Linked DNA regions of Homo sapiens. The protein of the gene in region 1 purifies or fractionates together with the protein of each later gene. This does not show direct contact. Each region holds a gene or a part of one and is shown in the gene's direction. Other genes may lie near its edges.

Evidence for each region.
Region 2: the proteins of GALNT7 (region 1) and CLTCL1 purify together in Homo sapiens (affinity purification with mass spectrometry; 2 studies listed by BioGRID and IntAct, with this or other methods). This does not show direct contact.
Region 3: the proteins of GALNT7 (region 1) and SLC9A1 purify together in Homo sapiens (affinity purification with mass spectrometry; 2 studies listed by BioGRID and IntAct, with this or other methods). This does not show direct contact.

The regions. Positions count from the first base shown.
Region 1 is NC_000004.12:173,241,800-173,248,825, forward strand, and holds part of GALNT7 (N-acetylgalactosaminyltransferase 7), read left to right. Parts: intron 1-6,180; coding exon 6,181-6,641; intron 6,642-7,026. UniProt on the Homo sapiens protein: Glycopeptide transferase involved in O-linked oligosaccharide biosynthesis, which catalyzes the transfer of an N-acetyl-D-galactosamine residue to an already glycosylated peptide.
Region 2 is NC_000022.11:19,288,694-19,295,901, reverse strand, and holds the start of CLTCL1 (clathrin heavy chain 2), read left to right. Parts: upstream 1-4,182; 5' UTR 4,183-4,260; coding exon 4,261-4,302; intron 4,303-7,208. UniProt on the Homo sapiens protein: Clathrin is the major protein of the polyhedral coat of coated pits and vesicles. Two different adapter protein complexes link the clathrin lattice either to the plasma membrane or to the trans-Golgi network.
Region 3 is NC_000001.11:27,145,100-27,152,125, reverse strand, and holds part of SLC9A1 (sodium/hydrogen exchanger 1), read left to right. Parts: intron 1-7,026. UniProt on the Homo sapiens protein: Electroneutral Na(+) /H(+) antiporter that extrudes Na(+) in exchange for external protons driven by the inward sodium ion chemical gradient, protecting cells from acidification that occurs from metabolism.

The DNA.
Region 1 (7,026 bases):
TGGTTAAAGGGGGGTGGCATTTAATTGGCTCAAAATGCCCCCTTAGAAACCCGATAAAATCTTCCCAGTAGGTGGCTAAAACTGCTTCACAGACTTGCCCACTTGTAACTGCAGTTACCATAGTATATTAGAAGTCTTGAGATAAAAATAAAAGATATAACTATTAGCTATTCCATAATAGGCATCACTCCATTGTCAAGAGTCCCAGTGTTTCAATCTGTAAAGTAACTTTGGGACGAACTGGTTTACTGTGTAGTACTCAGCCTGGTTACCCTGCTTAAGTTTAATATACAGTATTAGAGTTGCTGACCTTGATTTCTTTTAGTGGAGCATTATGATGTCAACTCTACTATTTTCTCTATTTTGTTACCCTTTGGTTTATATCTTGGCCTGATACTTAAAGAAAGGGAAAAAAAAGATAAAGAAGAATAGCAATTCCTCTAAGCGGGTCTATTTCTTTGAGCAGATAATTCTTACCAGAATATCATACTTTAAGCCACACCTAGAGCTTATATAGAATTTTTATATTTCCATAGTTACCTGAAAGCATGCTTCATCCATTTTCAGTTCTGCCCTAGTTGCTAACAGAGGCATTGCCATTGGAAAGTGGCCTTCAATCTCTTTCTAGTTTAGGGATATTAAAATATACTTGGAAATGGGTCCTTTCCTGTATGGATGACATTCTAGATATTTAAGGACTGGTAAGGTCTCTGTTTAATCTTGGGCTTATCCATTTTAAGCCCTGATTAAGCACAAATTCCTTGACCATGCCCAGCAGGGCTGCAGCTCCCAATGCAGTCATCGCTCAGTGCTCTGAAAGGAGCAAGACATGGAGCTCTTCAGTCAGCCGGAAATGTCTAGTCCATCCAGCTGTAACTAAGCAGAGAGAAAGAAGGGTACTGAGGCTGGTGCACTCCACATTCCCACCCACATCCTGCCACATGTTGGTGAGAGTCTGGGGAGCCCCAGCCTACTGGCACGCCTTGTTCCCTCTGAATTTCTGGAGCTTATTTATTTTTACCACCTCCCTCTCTGCTTTCTGTGTCCATTCCTTCTGCTCCTTTTAGGTAACTGCAGCCAGAGAAAGGATGCTGATAGGATTTTTCTGAAGAAAGGTGTTTTTGATCAAGAGAGTTAAAATCACAGAATGAAGTTTGGCTTGTTATACCTTTAAATTCTGTGGCTCATGAAGCATGATAACCAAGTAGTGTGCATGTTGTTCAAGCAGTGGCCCTTTCCTAAAGCTAAGTCATCATTTCTCAAGAGATCATGTGACTGCATAAGCTCATCATTAAAAGCTTAGTTTTCTAGGCTTCACCTGTGATTTCAAATTCAAACAAGCCTATGTTACTGTCATTTGCTCTAAAGACCATTTTTCTAAATCCCTTTGGATTTATATTATCTCTACCAAGGCATGGCCATCTTGGAAAAATATTACATATAAGCAGGATTTGGGGGTAAGAAGGGGCACTTTGTAAGTTGTAAGGTGGATGGTTACTAGCCTGACCTTACTTCTGGTAATCCATATTACCATCCAGTGATAAGTGGTTATATTTTTCAGTCCATTTCCACCTTTATGAACATACTGATCTTGGAAAATTATCTACTCATCCTCTTTTCCATTTCTGTTTAACAGTGATTCATTAGTTTGGGCTGTAGAGTGGATCAGCTGGTGTTTACGAAGGTATCATTGTACCAGTGAGTCACAGAGGCATCTACTGATTCTCATTCACTCTCAGAAAGGAGGAGTATGTAGCTTTCCTCCTCAGGGGAGTAAAGTATTACACCACTTTATAGCCGTTGTTTGAATCATATAATTAAGATTTGATGTGATTATTCTTAGTTGACTTGGGGTTAGACAGACAATTCTTGTATTTGGTTTTGCCTTCCGATTTAATGACATGCAGCCTCTGAGAAGTGAGCAAATTCAATTTTTCTGGTGCTATTATATGGCATTATTAAAAGTACAGTGCCGTGTAGGGAATATAGAGTTATGTTCTTGGTGAATTCATAAGGTATTGCCAGTACGGGTCTATCTGATTTAAGCCCTGCTCTCCCATTTTGTATTTTCCATTCTTTATCTCCCCTTTTCTTTTCGGAGTCTATCTTACCACCAAAGCAGAAATTTTAGGATTCATTCATTTATTCAGTGAGTATTTATTGAGGAATTATGTGCCAGGATAAGCACTGGGCATGCAGTGGTGCGTACGATGGACATAGCCTCTGCACTTTCACAGAACTTACAGTCTAGTGCAGGGACTAGGGAACCAAATCCAGCCCAACACCTGTCTCTGTAAATACATGGTTACTGGAACACAGCCATACCCATTCATTTACATATTGTCTATGGCTGCTCCCACACTGCAGAGGCAGACTTGAATAATTACCACAGGGACCCTGTGGTCTGCAAAGCCAAACATGTTTACTACTTAACCCTTTGAAGAAAAAGTTTGCTGACCCCTCTCTCATGGATAGTGCTGAAGACATTTCATAAATGCAGTCTAGAACTGGAAAAGCCTTGCCAACCCCCTTGAGGAGTGTGTATTCTCCAGAGGGCAGTGGGCTACTGCTGGAATATGGTAAGCAGGGAAAGAAACATGTTGATGTATGAATTTTAGAAAAGTCCCTGTGGCTGCTGTGTAGGAAGTATGTGTCAGGGCGAGAAGCACTAGGTCATAGTAGTTAAGAGTGTAGATCCTGAGCCAGACTATTTGGATTGAAATTTTGACTCTACTACATACTGATTCTAATCTTAGGTAACTTCCCTGTCAGATGTCCCATCTATAAAATAGACATGGCAATCATAGTACCTAACTCATGGGATTGAATAAGTTAATGTATGTGAAGCACTTAGGACACAGTGTTTACCATCATCACTATTATTCCTATTGTAATCTTGTTCAGAGGTGAGGGTGCCTGAATTAAGGCAGTAGCAGTGAGGATGATAGAAAGAAGTGGCCAGATGGAGGCTCTACACAGGTGATAGAATTGACAGGAATTTATGATTAATTGGATGTCAGAAGGGTAGATAAAAGAGAATAAAAAGTTGAGGGTGATTGCAGGTTTTGGATTTCATCAGTTGAGTGAATGGTGGTTTCAGTCCCTGAAGTAAGGAGACAGTCAGTGAAACAGGCTTGTGATGTGAGGTGAATGATAGGTTCAGTTTTTGGTATGTTAAATTTAGGTACTAGAGAGATATGAATAGAAATGTTCAGGAAGAAGTTGCCTGTAAGGTTTTGAGTTCAGAAAGGTGATACGGGCTGGGGAAATGGATGTAGCAGTGATCACTATAAAACTGGTCACTGAGCTTGGAAGAGAATGAAATAACCTAGAATGAGGATGGAATGACAAATAGACTAATAACAGAACCCTGAAGAACACTAACAGTTTAAGATTAGACAAAGAACCATTAAGTCAAAAAAAAAAAAAAAAAACAACTTTTGGAGGAAAATAAACATGAATTTTTAATCCATTAAAATTTCTGTCATTGAAATAGTTGAATTTGAAAAATATTTAAATTTGCAATTTTGGTATTAGCATAGGTCAACCTAAACTATGGCGTGTATTTCACAATTTGATTTCATGTACTATCATATTCTATATTCTTCTAATATTCAATTTCTTCTCTATGGAACATTAGGTAACTTAGTGGATGCTATGGCTATGGATGCTGACATCATATGAGCTGTTCCAACTACTCTTCTATATTTAATAACATTTCCTTACCTCCCTGTTTACCAATTCACTTGAGCCTGTGAAAGGAAAAACTGAAGTGGAGGAGAATGTCTTTCTCCTTTTTGTGTTATACTTGTTTCAGCATCAACAACTGGGAACCAGTTTGTTACAACATTTTATAATGATATCTCTATATTAATTTACTTACAACACTAACATAAGTAAGTATAATTTTGGAAGGAGCCAGGAGATAAATTGGAGAAACGAACACTTTTTCCATCATCAGAATCACCCCTTACCTCTCTCTTACAGTCATGCGTGCCTTACACTTTACTTAGTTAATTCCCAAGAGAATCTTCAGTTCTTCCTGAATATGATTTCCAAAAAAACAGCCTTCTACTCACTTACTCTGACCCTTAGTATGGCTCACAGGTTAGGCTCAAGCTAAGTCTCTGAGGTGGGACAATCAGAAGGCTGATCTAGAGGCTTTCTCAACCCTGTACCACACATGCCTGAAGAAAGGCATCACATTTATACAATCAGGCTGTGTTGCCTTTTCTATTTAGGGGGGAACTTGTGAAAAACTTTGAAATGCTCCCAAAAGATGTCTGTCTAACTCAACTTTCCAGCTTATCTCACCCTTTCCTATTTTACAATCCTGGAAATTACAGAAAACTGAGAGTGATGCAAAGGACTCTTGCCCATTGAAATGGAAATAGTTCTGGTGGAATGCAATTGATTATTGCCCTATGCAGAGTGACCAATTTAACCAGATTTGCATCTATTTGTAAATTCTTTGCAATATTCTTGATGTTTATGTTTGTCCTTTGGATTTATTTTTGAACCAGTTGTAATATCTTACAGGTTCCTTTTTTAATGAGTTAGTTAAAATTTATGTCCCATCTTCAAAAAAAATTATCTTGTTATATATACACATGTATGTTTATACATGCATATCACATCTGTAGAAAAATTCACAAGAAGTTGGTAGCTGTAATTACCCCTGCAGAAGGAAAGGCAGGAAAGCTTGCTTTTCACTACATGCCCTTTTGGATGTTTTGAATTTTGTGTTGTATGCCTATGTTACCTAAACAAATAGAAAATTTTTAAAAATTTCTTTTTGAACTCTTGAAAATCAAGACTTAGCGATCCCTTGACTACTAATTTCACGTCTGAAATAACTGACTTTCTATAAAGGTTTTTGCCTCTAAATAAACTACTAATAGAGAGCAGCCTACACATCAACATCATACTTAGAGACTTACTTTTGTATTTTTTAAGGCAAACTAGTAAACTTTACTTTTCAAGGTAGCTCTAACCCTGTAGAAAGATTTTGGTCGGGTGGTGCTAATTCTATGACTACTCTGTTGGGGAATCACACAGTTTTAGTGTAGAGGGAAGTGGCAGACCCATCAGCCTATTTTGCATTTATTCTGTATGCACCTTGCCTCTTCACCAGCTGTGTCCTCTATAATCCCCTTGTCTAATTATAACGAGCAGCCCTCCCATTAAGCCAGTGATTCTCAGGCTTAGATGTATATTAAATCACCAGGAGTGCTTTTAAAAATCGAAATGCTTAGACCAATTGAATCACAATGTCTGAGGGTAAGACACAGACATTGGCATTTTTTAAAGTGATCAAGGTGATGCCAATGTTGAGAAACAGTGTCTTGTGCGAAGAATGGTACTGGCTTAGGAAAAAACTTAACAAATAATACCTCAGAAGCAAAAGCACTCAGGATATCTGACTGGAAGATCTGCATAGGTGATGAAGACGGCCCAAACAGAAAAGAGAGGCACCCTTTACTGTGAATGAATATCCTTGTACAAAGAATCTGTTTTGACCCATGCTGCTTCTGGAATGGGGCAAACTAGATATGGGGGAGTGGTTTAAAAGCCCGAGCTGACTTAGTTACAGATATTAGCTTTTTTTATACTTCTGATTTCAGATAAACTCTCAGTGAGTAAAAAATACCAAATCGGGACTCTGCATATCCCCGCCTTGTTCCTCTGCCATTTGGGGCACTGAGCCAGCCTGCTGACAGTGACATCCATCTAATACCACTGCCACCATATGGTTGTGCTACCGACAAAAGGTTATATTTATCACACACGGTACAACTGGGAAAACCACATACTGTACAAACATGACCTATTAAGCATCTGTTTTAATCAAAGATTCTAGAACTTCTTTGCTCTAACCCTTAAAAATATGCTTTATTAAGAGGTCTTTGATAGAGAAGTAGATTTGTAAAGGGAGAAGTAAAAATGCATCCTTTCATTAATTTTGAAATAGTAAGGCGAGGAGATAGCCTATTTCTTGGTATTTCTTCTCTACCCTGAAAGATATCTCCTAATGGGAAGTCCTGATTAATGGCCCGCTTGTATTCCAAACTGTTTTATTGTTGCCTCAGCCTTTTTCAAAACCTGAAAATTGGTCTCATGAGCTCTACTGTGGTGGTTTGCCTTCATGTACTCATTGTATATCCCCTCCCTTTTGTATAGGAAGACAGAGATGTCAATGACCCCATGCCCAACCGAGGCGGCAATGGACTAGCTCCTGGGGAGGACAGATTCAAACCTGTGGTACCATGGCCTCATGTTGAAGGAGTAGAAGTGGACTTAGAGTCTATTAGAAGAATAAACAAGGCCAAAAATGAACAAGAGCACCATGCTGGAGGAGATTCCCAGAAAGATATCATGCAGAGGCAGTATCTCACATTTAAGCCTCAGACATTCACCTACCATGATCCTGTGCTTCGCCCAGGGATCCTCGGTAACTTTGAACCCAAAGAACCTGAGCCTCCTGGAGTGGTTGGTGGCCCTGGAGAGAAAGCCAAGCCATTGGTTTTGGGACCAGAATTCAAACAAGCAATTCAAGCCAGCATTAAAGAGTTTGGATTTAACATGGTGGCAAGTGACATGATCTCACTGGACCGCAGCGTCAATGACTTACGCCAAGAAGAGTAAGCACACATCCTCTTCTTTCTAAAAATGGGGCAACTGTTGTTTTCATAGGTTTTTAGGTTTAGTTAGATTGTTAGAATGAAGAAATAATTATTGATGCCTTTATTTCAAGGAAATAAGAGGATCTTTGAACAGCAAAATGGTCAGAAGGAGGCAGTCCCTCCATTTATGCCATTGTATTGAAGGTGGGCTGTATAAAATTCTGGGGCCCTCTACGTCAGTGCTATTCAAAATATGGTCCCCAGACTGGCACTGGTCAATGAATTTTTTGTTACCAGTCCACAGTGAGAAAATGAGCTTGCACCAGGATGTAAGTCAACTACACTATTAAATATTTTGTTTAGTTTAAGTGACAACTTTTTAATAGCAAAACTTCCTTGATTT
Region 2 (7,208 bases), on another chromosome or scaffold:
TCTTTTCAGAGGTGTGTAATATGCTAACACTATCTGGTGAATTTTCACAATTTCAGTTCTAGAATTTCCATTTGGTTCTTTATAATTTACAGGCTTGTGATAAAATTCTTAACCTTGTCTTTTATCCTCTTAACCATATTAAGCATAATTATTTAAAAGTCTTTGTGAAAACTCCATTTTTTGATCCCCTAGAGCTCACTTGTCTGTTACTGTTCTTGTTTTTGTTTCAGATACAGGGCCTCATTCTATCACCGAGGCTAGAGTGCAGCAGTGTGATCTTGGCTCACTGCAGCCTTGACCTCCTGGGCTCAAGCCATCCTCCTGCCTCAGACTCTGGAGGTGCATGCTCAGCTAATTATTATTATTATTAGTTTTTTAGAAACAGGGTGTCACTATGTTGTCCAGGCTTGCTCTTGTTTTTTGCAACCATTTTGTCTTTTCTCCTTGGATGCCTACTTATTTTTGATTCAGTGTTGAACACTGCATATGAACAATTGTAGAAGTAATTTGAGACCATGGATGAGGTTATCATTCCCAGGGAAGATTTACATTTGCTGCTGGCAAGGACTGACATGATTTGAATGGAGTCCCAAACAACTTGTGGTCCCAAAACAGTACAGTGGGATACCTCCTTGGTGGTACCAAGCCTCCAAATTTTGTCGTCCTAGGGCAATGAGAGTGTTAAAAGTGCTGCTCAGAGTCCTAGTGTCTCAAACATTCATCTGGAATTGGCAGATGCCTTTCAAGAAAAAGCAGCCATAAACCACTCACCTCTCTCATGTCCTTTCTCTCTGATATTGGCCTCATAATTATTCACTGCCTTTTTAGTTCTCTGAAGCTGTCTGAAAACTAAAGTCCTCCAGTGACTTTTTCTTTTTTAAAGACAGGGTCTTTCTCTGTTGCCCAGGCTGGAGTATAGTGGTACGATCATAGCTTACTGTAACCTTGAGCTCATGGGCTCAAGTGATCCTCCTGTTGCAGCCTCCCAACTAGGCCTATAGACATGCATCACCATGCCCTGTTAATTTTTAAATTTTTTTGAAGAGATGGGGTTGACCAGGCTGGTCTTGAACTCCTGGGCTCAAGCAATCCTCCTACCTCAGCCTCCCAAAGCGCTGCGATTATACGCCTCCACAGACTTTTCAATTCCACCTATAGGAAAGTCCCATGGGAATTGGAATTTAGCTATAACATGTCGTTTCTTGTACCAGTTATTAAATAATGTCTTTCAGCTCTATTCTCCCTTCCCACCTCTAGACACTGCTTCTGATGCCAGGGCTGAGACTCTAAAAAACATATTTCTCATTGGCAAATAAAGAAGATCTGATCTAATATTCCCTATTAGACTAAGCTGATAGGTTGATAGAGGGAGACCACAGGGCCACTTCCTGTGAGCATCACCCCAGCTAGGCTTCTTCAACAAGGCAGCAGCACATTCTTCCCACAGAAGCTGAATCCAGTTTAAGTTTTTCCAAGACTTGCAGAACCAGCCTCAGTATGCCTTCTCCTTAGAGATCTGGGTGAGAGTCTCCCAGTGCCCTCTTTAGAGGGCTTACTCCCAGCTCCACAGCCACCCCTCATCCATAGTGTGTGTCTAAGTCCCGTAGGGACCCTCCTCAGAGGTCTGAGTCCCATCCCCATGGGATCTCTCCTCTGGGCTCAATGACCCCAGCCCCAGCTGGTCAACACACCTCCTCAGAGATCTGAATTCCAGCTCTGCAAGCCCTTCCTTTAAGCTGTAATAATTCCAGCTTCTCTTTCATCTTTGAGCTCTAGGGGTGGTAGCTGTGTCCTATGTTTGTAACTCCATATCTTGGGATTTTCTTTTTATTATTTTAAATTTACTTCCTGTTAACTATTGTTTATATTCAGTTCCCTTTGTTTAAATAACTGATGCACTTTCTCTCTCTTCTGTGGTTTGAAGGTTTGTGTCCCCTTCAAAATTAATGTTGAAACTTAATCCCGGGCCAGGCGCGGTGGCTCACACCTGTAATCCCAGCACTTTGGAAGGCCGAGGTGGATGGATCACCTGAGGCCAGGAGTTTGAGACCAGCCTGGTCAACATGGTGAGACCCTGTCTCTACTAAAAATGAAAAATTAGCCAGGTGCGGTGGCGTGCGCCTGTAGTCCCAGCTACTTGGGAGGCTGAGGCAGGAGAATGGCTGGAACCTGAGAGGCAGAGGTTGCAGTGAGCAGAGATCGTGCCACTGCACACCAGCCTGGGCGACAGAGCGAGACTCTTGTCTCAAAAAAAAAAAAAAAAAAAAAAGAATTGAAAGGTTTTTTTAGGGTTACTTAGCAAGTTACCTACAAGTGGTGAGAATATTAAAGTCCCTTTCAAGTCAGAACATTTAATTTTTTTACAAGTATATTAACAACTTTATTTCCTGTTAACTACAACTATCACTTATATTCACTTCTGTCTATTCAAATAACTGTTGTGCTTTCTGTCTCTTCTATGGTTTGAAGAGACAGAAAGATTTGTGTCTCCTCTAAAATTAATGTTGAAACTTAATCCCCACTTGAGGTCCCGACGTATTAACAATCCTGTCACTTTGCTTAACTATGATTTTCTTAAATTCTTTCTTTTAGGGTATAAAATTTTAGTTTTAATCCCCAAAAAGCCCTGGGGAAGGTGATTTAGGGAGTGATGGTATTAATTACTAAAAAATTTATATAATGTTTGGGGTAAAGGGTACTTGGAGTCACAGGCATCATTGCCAAAATAAAGAGATTTGGGAAATGTAGTACTAACCACAGCAAAACCCAGCTCTATATTTAGCGGATGAGGCCACATGGATTTTAGAAAGGGCGGGCTGCAGAGGTCTTGGCTAATACTGGAAAAGAGATTTAATTTGAAAGTGAACAGTCTGTTCTATTCCTTAACATATTTTTGGCTACTAGATGGTCAAGCCATTGCGCAAATAATTGCACCATCCTTGTCTTATTCAAGGTGGGCCGTTCATTTCTTAAAATTACCAGTGAGCAACATGGGAAGCAGCAGAGACGGCTATCGATTACCCCGTAGGGAGTGCCTGTGCTGAATGCCAAGGGCTTCCCTTTCCTGACAGACATCTTTTATGCAGCTGAATCATCTGTATGCAAAACATCAGCCAACGGTGCCTCGGAAAAACAACTGGCTGCTGGGCAAACCAGGTGTGGGCTCCAGCTTCCACCTGCTACTACTGTCGTGCAGCCACGGGCACTCTGGGTGATCCTCACTGGCCTGGGGCTGGTCATCTGCTGCTAGATGACCTTCGCTGACTCTCTACATTGATATTCCGACACAGTGTTCTCTAGAAACCGCATGAGCCAGGAAAGGTGTTTCCTAAAGGAGCAGGGGCCGAGCCTCACGCCGAAACACGTCTGTAACACGTACAGTCACGCGTCCCATGCATCCATGCATTCTGAGACATGCGTCTCGGTTGTGGGATCATCACAAGGTAACTTACACAAACTCAGATGGCACAGCCACTACACAACTAGGCAGCTGATGCGGTCCGCTGCTGCTAGGCCGCAAACCCGCACCGCGTGTGAGGTGCGTTATTCCCCTGGCACGGTAATGACATACCTGTACGTGTATCTCCAAATACAGGAGAGGAAATGTCCTTAGCTAAGCCCTCACCAGAGGACAGGAAGTTTCCAGCTCCGTTATCATGTTATGGGACCACCGTCATATACACGGTCCTCCTCAGACCAAAAGGTCGTTCGTTATACGGCACATGTGGTTCTTCCAAGACCCTTTTCCATCTTTCTGTCACATCCGTGCCTGAGTAAAAAGTGGCCCTGAACTCAACCGTCCAGAGTTGGCGGCAGAACTAGCACCACTGGCCCGCTCCACATGTGGAAGGCGCTGGGCAAGGGCCGCCGCAGACCCCATCAGGATTAATCCCCCGAAAACCTTTCACTCGGGTAGCTGGCACACACCGCGTCAGGGCAGAGGGCGCGCGGGACTACTTTCCGCGGACCCTCGGAGCGGGCGGAGGGATCCGCGCAGGCGGGACGGGGCAGAGGCGGGGGCAGGGGCGGGGGCAGGGGCGGGGGCAGGGGCGGGGCAGAGGCGGGGCAGGGGCGGGGCAGGGGCGGGGGAAGGGGCGGGGAAAGGGGGTGCGGGCCGGGGCGCGGTCAGGGAGGAGGGCGGGGGCCAGGACCGGGAGCTCGGGGCACTGCGCCTGCGCCGTCGCCACCGGTCAGCCCGCGCGAGGGGTCGGCGTTCATTCCTGCCGCTGCCGCCGCCGCCGCCGAGGTCCCGCACCAGCCATGGCGCAGATCCTCCCTGTTCGCTTTCAGGAGCACTTCCAGGTGAGGCCCGGCGGGCTGGGGGGCTGCCCTGTCAGCCGCGCCTCCGCCGGGCCGGACTGCCAGGCTTGACCCCGCGCCCCCAGCCCCGCTGAGCCGCTGCCCAGCTGGCCGCGCCGATTTCCGACCTCCCACCTGGGCTGGGGCTGCGGCGTCCCGGGCGCGGCGGCCGCTCCTGAGGACCCGCTTGGGTGCCGTCGCCGAAGCCCGTTACCGGCGGGGCCGGCTGGGGAATGGTGGGGGTGGAAGCCAACGCCCCCTGGGACGCCCCGCTCAGTGCCCGCGAGGAGGCACACAAATTCCCGCTGCAGGCAGGGCAACCCAAGGGCCGCGCGGATCCCACAGCTCCACGCCCCTCCTTGGCGTCCTGCGGTCCTTATTCGCCCCTGAGTTTGCCTCTGTGATCGGTTTTCGTCCCCAGGGCGGCTTCGCCTGGGAGGACCGTGAACATGCGTGACCCAAGAGAAAAATTTCTCAGGGCCAAGCCTAAATAGGGCTTTTCAATGCAGTAACACCCCCAAAGCCTGCCTTTTTAATAAGGTCCCAGTTTGTTCTCCATTTGTTTGTGTTCAGAAACATAAGGACTGGCCCCCTGCTTTGAGCAAAGGCTCAGGTCGGGCGTCGTGCGGGCCGCTCGCGGGTCTGCCCGGGAGCGGTGCTGGTCCCCACGTTTACCCTGGGAGGTGCGGCAGAGGAGGGATAGCCAGCGGCTCCTCCCTGAGTGCTCTGTGTTAAATCATCACACTACCATTCGTTGCGATTCGCTTACTCTTTTCTAGATGAGGAAACCGAGTCTCAAAAGTGTTAAAGAACTCATCTTCATTCAATAAGAACAGGATTCAGACTCAAGTCTTTTTGACCACAAAGTAGTACATCGAGGAACGTGCTTGCTTGAAAGTTCCTATTTTCACAGTGCAGAGCACTGTTAGCCCTAGATGCAGACGGGAAAAGCCTTGGGAACTGTGTAGTGCAGTCCAGTCCCCTCATTCTGCAGACTGGAAACTTGATATCCAGGGGATCCTGCCAGGGTCACTTGGTTAGTGACACAGTGGAAGTTGTATGGAGGTGGGAGTGCCCTGACATCTGTCCGGGCTTCATTCTGCCACTAAGCTAAGCCAGCACCAGTCATGTTGAGGTAGCAAAATACTGCTGCTGCTCATAATAATGATGATGATGTAGTTATCATTTACTGAGCCGTTTCTCTTGCCACTCACTAGACTACTGTATTTTATAAATCTGGTTTAATTTAATCCTCATGATAACTGAGGCAGATAGTGATATCCTGTTTTCTACCATGGGTCACTGAGGTTAATATTCTAATTCCTTCAGCAAAAGTTACATGGCTAGTAAGTGACAAAGCTTGAGTTCTAACCCAGGTCTGATTCCAATGCCTGTGCTTAACCACTATCTAAATATGTTCTTTTCAAAGGGCAAGAAAGCAACAAGATATTTTAGGTGTCCATCAGAGTTTCTAATGTCCATCAGGATTTGTAATGTCCATCAGAGTTGATATGTTCCATTATCTGGAAAATGCTTGTGGCTTGTGGTGGGCAGCCACGTGAATGCAAGTCTGGTTTGTGGTCTCTAACACTGACTGGGTCTTTGAGGCTGCTGTGCATTCTGTAGAGCAAACACTGAGTCAGCACACACTGCCTTCACTACAGACATTTCGAGACTTCAGCCTGTTCCTTAAATCCCTGATCCTGCCACTCCTGCCTTGCAACCAGCAGATGACTTGGAGAAAACTGAAGCCATAACTGGGATGTTTCTCACCTATATGGCTGCAGACTTAGATGTTTGTCTGCAGCCACCCTTTCCTGCCTTCCTGTTACCTCAAAAGTAGGTGTCCTTTCTTGTCTATGTTCTGGATCTGGTATCCTTCTTCCCTATAAGGGAGCCTCGTTCAGTCATAGCCTCCCTTTCCTGTATTTTCATCCTTCTGTCTTGTTGTTTCTTCCTGTTTGTGTTGGGCAATGCTCACCTCTCTTCCATCTGTACAACCAGCAAACTTCTTCCCCCGCTCTTGTCCCCACGAAGCTCTTGTCTCATAGCTGGATGTCATGAAAGAGCTGCTTTAGTGCTTCATTATTTTTATGTTCCACAGTAACCTGCAGTCTGGCTTTTGTCCCCATTTTTTCCCCTGAATCTGTTTTTGCCAAGGTTACAAGCCATCCTGCAGGCTTTTTTGTAAGGGCCACATTCTGTCTCTGTCCCATATTCTTACATTTTTTAACCTTCTAAAAATATGAAAAAGACTTTTAGTTTAGCCATACAAAAGCAGGCTGCAGTTGGCTAATCTTTGCTGTAAAAAATAAAATCAGGCCGAGCATGGTGGCTCACACCTGTAATCCCACCACTTTGGGAGGCCGAGGCGGGTGGATCACCTGAGATCAGGAGTTCGAGACCAGCCTGGCCAACATGGTGAAACCTCGTCTCTACTAAAAATACAGTATTAGCCGGGCGTGTTGGTACGCACCTGTAGTCCCAGCTAGTCAGGAGGCTGAGGCGGGAGAATCTCTTGAACCCGGGAGGCAGAGGTTGCAGTGAGCCAAAATCATGTCACTACTCTCCAGCCTGGGTAACAGACCGAGACTCCGTCTCAAAAAATAAGATGCGATGAGCTAGGTGAGATAAAGCCCATCACACCACACGCATCTTCTGTGATGTCCAGCCGCATTTGATGCTGCACTTTACTGCCTCCTGAGGGTCCTTTCTCTACTGTTTTTGGTTCCACAGTTTCCCAGGGTTTCTCCTTCCTCTCTGCCCACACCCACTGCCCCATGGGCGGCTCTTGTGCATGAGCTTGGAATCTGTCTTGAGCCCCTCTGCTTTTTCATTCAGGACATGCTGCTGGTGATGTTATGTATTCCCATAAGCTTGATGTTCCCAAGCCATCCGAGTGTTTTCGC
Region 3 (7,026 bases), on another chromosome or scaffold:
CATGGCAACAATATCAGTCTAGAAGTCAGGAAAACCTGGCTTCTCTTCCTACCTCCCTCTGTCCTTGGACCAGTCACGCCTCCCTACCCATCAGTTGATCTTTGTGGTCCCTTCCAGGTGTGATATTTCTGTCATTCCACTGACTCTGGAAACTCTGGCAAGTCACTCAGCCTTGGACCTCAGTTTTCCCATTGTAAAATGATGAGGCTGGATGTGGTCTCCTTTCCAAAAGTCTGTTTCTGCCTTGGAAAGGCATTTTTCTGCCTCTGAAAACAGGAGTTCTAGCATCTGGCCATGAGTGGAGAGAAAGGTGGTCTAAAGATCTGAAGAGTCCCTGTTCAGGCCTCAAAAATGAAAGCCCATTTTTCCCAGCTTCACCTTTGCAGTGTGGAATTCAGCCACCACTCTGCCACTTAGCAGCATCTCTGAGCCTCAGTTTCCTCATGTATAAAAGGGGAACTAAGCTGGGCGCAGTGGCTCACGCCTGTAATCCCAGCACTTTGGGAGGCTGAGGCAGGGTGGATCGCCTGAAGTCAGGAGTTTTGATACCAGCCTGGCCAACATGGTGAAACCCCGTCTCTACTAAAAATACAAAAAATTAGCTGGGCATGGTGGCGGCTGCCTGTAATCCCAGCTACTCTGGAGGCCAAGGCAGGAGGATCGCTTGAACCCAGGAGGCGGAGGTTGCAGTGAGCCAAGATTGCGCCATTGCACTCCAGCCTGGGCAACAAGAGTGAAATTCCGTCTCTAAATAAATAAATAAAAAAAAATAAAATGGGAACTAATAGTATCCAGTTATAGTGCTATTAATGTGATTATTACATAAATAAATGCACATAAAAGTTTGTATACACAGGAAGTGTTCAATGAGTGACAGCTGCCCCTGTTAATATTTTAACCACCTACAGCAAATGCATCCCTACCTCAGCCTCCTACAACCTTCCTCTGAGCTGAAGGATTACAAATCTCTCAAACCTAGGCTGCCACCAATGTCCTTCCTTAGGGTATCAGGGTTTCCATGTGTCCTATACTGTTCACTTGAGCTGGTCATGGCGGGAGGGAAGATGACACCAGCTGCCTTGTAGGGATAAGGGTGGGGGGCTGAGGCCATGCTCCCTCTGCACTCTCAGATACCCAAGAGCCTGGGAGCTGATTTTGGGGTCTTGCCTATTCTCTCAACACCCCTGCGTGGGTAGGAGTTCCGTTGGAGCCCTCATTCTGTCATCTATGGCAGCTGCTTCCCTTGCAGGTTACCCCTCCTATAAGAATAGAAAGTGCTTTGCAGTTCTCCTTCCTACCCTAACCATGGAGCAGAGCCTCGGGTAGACTCTTGCAGAGACTGGGGTGGGAGGAGCAGGGTGGGAGCTGAAGTTCTAGAATAGTTGCTTCTGGGTTCTAGTCTACCTCTGACTCAGTGGGTGACATTAGGTAAGTCACCTTCCCTCTCTGGACCTTTTTTCTCTCCCCAGCAGTCAGGAATTCTTGCTTGTCCTTGGTGGGGAGGGGCCAGTGGTGTGAAGAGGATTTAGGCTATTGGGAAAACTGTGGGAATGACTCCAAGCCTTAGGAGTTAGGTGCATTCCCCACCCCACATTGTGCTGTGGACCCCGCATGAACTCTGCTTTGTTCCATGTTCACCTGACTCCCAGGCTAGTACTTATTCCAGAGGAGAGCCTCACTGTAACTCAGCTCACCACTGGCATCTCCTGCAATTGTTTACCCATGTTCCTGACCCAGAATGCCTGGCAGAGGCCCGGGAGCCCATAAAGCAGGTATTCATCTTGTCTCCTGACCAGGGACACAAAAGGCTTCTTTTGTCCCTTTATATCTTATAGCTTTTTTTGGTTTTGGTCTTTGCAAGGCGAATCCTGCCATCTCCTCTGTAGATTAAGTCTGTGAATAGGGGAGATGGGGTCACTGCCCACTTCACATGCATGGATATCAGACCCAGCAACTGGTTTCCTATAAAAATGACACTAGAAGGTGCCTCTCTCACTTCTCAAAAGAAGAGAAGAACAAATAGCCTAAAGGTCACCTTGAAACTGTCTCAAGAAGCCCAGATAGGACTCTAAAAAGGAAGCGATGACCTTTTTCTCTTTGGGAAAATAGCAGACTGACTGCAGAACAGTGGGAGGGAGGTCAGCTGGGGACTGGGAGGAAGGCTTCAGGTAGGACATGTGTCTCTAGGAGTGCCAAGGCACTTAGAGGGCTTAGTTGGTCAGATTGCCCAGACTTCATTCAGCTGAGCACCCTCGAAGTTTGCCTTTCCTCTCCTTCCAAGCCAGCCCCATGGCGTCCAGCCCTGGTACAAAGGAAAGACGTAGTCAGAAGCCCTGGGTTCTGCTCCTGATGCTGCCTCTCAGTACCTGTGTGACCATGAACCTTGAGGTTCATGCACCTCATTCTCTGAACCTGACTTGCCTCATCCTTAAGACCAACGTAGAGGCTGAACGTGGGAATGCCTGGTAGAGTGCCCAGCTCACTGTAGTAACTTTCAGGGCCGTGCAGATTCTTCCCCTTTTGGGAGGTCTTCCCAGCCCACAGCAGTCACTTTCTCTTTCTCTCCCAAACCCTTTTCCCTTATTGTTTATCCATAACAGTGGCATTAGGCCTTGCCTGCCCTGTGACATCTCCTGTGTTGAACGGGTGTGTGTGTTTTAATAATAGTTGCCACTTAGTATCTACAGAGTAGTGTCAGGCACTTTATAAAAGCAATCTTATTTAATCCCTACTCAAATCACATGAGATAAAAGCTGTCTCTGTTTTGCAGATGAGGAAATGGCTCAGAGAGGTTATCTTCAGTGATGTCAAATTGCTATTTATTGTCTGTTCGAGTCTTGGCATAGCCTGCTAGAGGGGTGCAGCTGCATCTCCTGCCTCTGGCATTCCCGCAGCAGATGCACATGGCCCTGCACTGAGAAGCGCCCAGCTCACTGCACCTGCACTCAGGAATTGTAGGACTCCCTCTAGGAGTTGGGCACATGTCGTTGGTGGGAGCCCTGTCCCTGCCTTGAGAAAGCTGTAGGTGTTCTGTGTCCAGCTGTGCACCTGTCCTTTGTTTTTGTGAGTCTTCTTGGATGCACCTGAATCCTGCATTCAGGAGGCCTATCCCTTGTTCTCTGCTAGCAACCCTGCCTGCTATCTCTCTTCCGGTGCCCTCTCAGCCATCAGACCAGAGCTTGCTTCTTCCCTGCTTGGGCAGGGAAGTGCCAGGTAAAGGGTGGTCTCCTTTAGCCACAAGGGGTGGCTGACCTTATGACCTCCCGCCTCTGAGCAGAAAGGTGACAGGCTGCTTTTGGTTACCCTCAGGGCCCAGCAGAGTCCCCTGAGAGGCAGCCTCTGTTGGGAGCAGGTGGCACAACTTTGTTTAGCTCTACAAGGCAGGAGGAGTTTAATAGTACTTCTCATTAGCACTGAAATTTGTTTCCAAAGCACTTGTGTGTACAATATTTAATTTAGATCTTCTCAGTGGTCCTGTGGGTTAGAATAGCATGTGGTATTGATGTGTTCATCATTTTACATCTAAGGAAATTGAGCCTTCGGTTGTGACCTGCCTGAGGTCACTTAGCATGCCTGGGACTAATCACTCAAGGCCAAACTCTCTCCTGCCAGGCCAACATGCTGGGTTCTTGTTGGATCAAGGGGGATGAGAGATTTAAAGGGGCTTTGAGGAGAGTCAATGACCAGACACATCCACATTGGTAACCTGGATTGTTGTCAGGAGGGACACCTGTTCCTCCTGTAGGCAGGAAGGGCTAAAGGGTCTGGGTGGTCTGGAGCCTTGACAGCTTTGGCTCAGCTCCAAGTTCTTTTCTACAACTTGAACATACCTGTATTTGCATGAAGGAGGATGAGGGCCAGAGTTGCACTGGGGACTGACATTCTCATAGCCCTTATCTGTGGAGCAGCAAATCTTTGAAATGGAGGACTTGTCCTTTCCCCCAGAATGTTGCATGCCCTCTGGGAGAGAAAAGGAGAGGCAGAGAAATGATTACAATGGAAAACATGTAGGATGGGGTGAAAGGTTAAGATACCTGAGATCTAGTCTCAGCTCTCTGTTGCCCAGCTGTGTGACTTTAGGCAAGGCATAACCTCTCTGAGCCCCTGTTTTCTTTTTTCTTTTTTTTTTTGATACAAGAGTTTCGCTCTTTTTGCCCAGGCTGGAGTGCAATAGTGCAATCTCAGCTCACTGCAACCTCTGCCTCTTGGGTTCAAGCAATTCTCCTGCCTCAGCCTCCTGAGTAGTGGGGATTACAGGCATGTGCCACCACACCTGGCTAATTTTGTATTTTTAGTAGGGATGGGGTTTTGCCGTGTTGGTCAGGCTTGTCTTGAACTCCTGACCTTAGCTGATCCTCCCACCTTGGCCTCCCAAAGTGCTGGATTACAGGCGTAAGCCACTGCTCCTGGCCTGAGCCCGTTTTCTAATTGATAATATAGATACTTAATTTTTCATTTTGTTTTGTTTTGTTTTTTTAGAGATGGGGGATGGGGATCTTCCAATTTTGTTGTCCAGGCTGGTTTTGAATCCCTGGCCTCAAATGATCCTCCCGCCTCAGTCTCCTGAGTAGCTGGGATTATAGGGATGAGCCATCACACCTGACTCCCTATTATTTTATTTTTATTTATTTTTTTGAGATGGAGTCTCACTCTGTCGCCCAGGCTGGAGTGCAGTGAGGCGATCTCGGCTCACAGCAACCTCCGCCTCCAGGTTCAAGTGATTCTCCTACTTCAACCTCCCAAGTAGCTGGGACTACAGGCATGCGCCACCACCCCCAGCTAATTTTTGTATTTTTTTCTTTTCTTTTTTTTTTTTTTTTTTTTTTGAGACAGAGTCTCGCTCTTTTGCACAGGCTGGAGTGCAGAGGCATGATCTCAGCTCACTGCAACCTCCGCCTCCCGGGTTCAAGTGATTCTTCTGCCTCAGCCTCCTGAGTAGCTGGGATTACAGGCACCAACCATCATGCCTGGCTAATTTTTTGGTTTTTTTGTTTGTTTGTTTGTTTGTTTGTTTTTAGTAGAGACAGGGTTTCACCATATTGGCCAGGCTGGTCTCGAACTCCTGACCTCAGGTGATCTGCCCGCCTCAGCCTCCCAAAGTCCTGATATTACAGGCATGAGCCACCGCGCCCGGCCTAATTTTTGTATTTTTAGTAGAGATGGGTTTTCGCCATGTTGGCCAGGCTGGTCTTGAACTCCTGACCTCAGGCGATCTGCCCGTCCCGGCCCCCCAAAGTGCTGGGATTACAGACATGAGCCACTGCACCCGTCCGGTAATTGGTGATATATTTGTTAAATACTTGTTAATTAGCTGCCACTTATTAATTTTTTATTTTGTTTATTTTTGAGACAGGATTTCGCTCTGTCTCCCAGGCTGGAGTGCAGTGGCGCAAAGACGGCTCACTGCAGCTTCAACCTCCCTGGCTCCAGGCAATCCCCCCACCTCAGCCTCCTGAGTAGCTGGGACCACAGGTACAGGTCACCACATCCAGCTAAGCTGCCACTTATTCATATCTAGTTTAGAGGTTGTGAAAGGTACTTGCACAGCTAGAAAACATTGGGGTTTAAGCCCAGATTTGTCTGACTTCAGAGCCTGTGTTCTTTTCATCCTCATGCCCTGATTCCAAGGGCCTTTTCAGTTTAGAAATTCAATTTTTCCCATAATCATTTTGAATTGGGGGAGATTTAAAGACTTTAGTATTTTGAGCCTTGGCTGCTTTCTGTGGATCACTTCTTGGGTTTGGGGAAAAAGCTGACCCACTCCAAGTCCCACTGTGAAGCAAATAACCTTTCTCAGAGGTGGCAGCATGCAGAAAAATACAGGAGTGACGGGGAACTAGAGCTGGGGGCCTGAGGCTGTCTCTGGGAATGCCAGCCCATACACAGCCTCCTTTCCTCCTCACCGCCTCTCCCACCTGCCCCCTTTCCTCCTGAGGCAGGGAGAGAAGGCTCGCTCAGCACACCCAGGACCTGGGTTATTCCTGAGTCATCCATCGCCTGTGTGGGCCTCATTTTGCAGCACTCGCTCCCCCTGCAAATGTCTGAGTCAGGCATGTCTCCCCAAGGTTGTCTGCACACACTGCACTGGGCCAAACTGTCTCTTTAGATGCCGATAAACATCAACTGATACTTTAAAGCAGCCCGTGATTATATGTTGGTATTTTAATCTTATGGGCTAATCTAATTTTAACTGAACTAAGTTTTGGGTTGGGCCTGGATCAGTGGGCTGCCCGCCTTCCCTGGGATCATGCTGACTTCATTTTCTTCCCCCTAAAGCTCATCTAATATACAGAGCCGATTTTGGGGTCTATTAGGCCAGACCTGAGCCCTGAGTTTTTATACTACTTGCCAAGAATCCAGAGTTCCCCCCAAATTACCCCAGCAAATTCTTTCCTGAAAAGATATGTCCTTAAGCAGTTCTAACTGAGATTCAGGATGAAAAGCTCTGTTCCTTCCCAGGCCCCCTTCCCTGTCCCTTGGGAAGCACTTACCCCTAAGCCCAGACTGGCCTTGCCACAGTGCTGAGCCTGTTTGAGACCAGGCCACAGAAGGCGGAGGAGTGATATCACAGCTGTGTGTTAGAGCCCACAAGTTCACTAAACCAATAAATAGCTAACACTTGCATAGCATTTGCTGTATGCCAAGTGAAGCTGGAAGAGGCTGTGTCTTTGCATCAGCCAGCCAGGACCAAGAGCAGCTCGCTAAGATCCTGGGTGGAAGAGGCAGGTCAGCTGAAATCAGCTAGCAGGCATTTAGCATATGGCCATCAAGGAACAAAAGAAGAGTAAACCCAGGCCCTGCTCTTTAGGAGCTTCCAGCCTGCCAGGGCTGGGCGGACTCCTGGCAGAGGCAAAGTACAGAGGGAGCAAGCAGTCCCTGAGGACTGGGGTGTTTAGAGAAAGCCTCTCAAAGGAGGTGGAACATTAGTCTGAGTCTTGAAGGATGGAAAGGAATTAGATAAGCAGGCTATACTTAGTACCAATTTCCATAAGAATGTAAGCCTCTTGAGGACAGGGACTTTGTTTG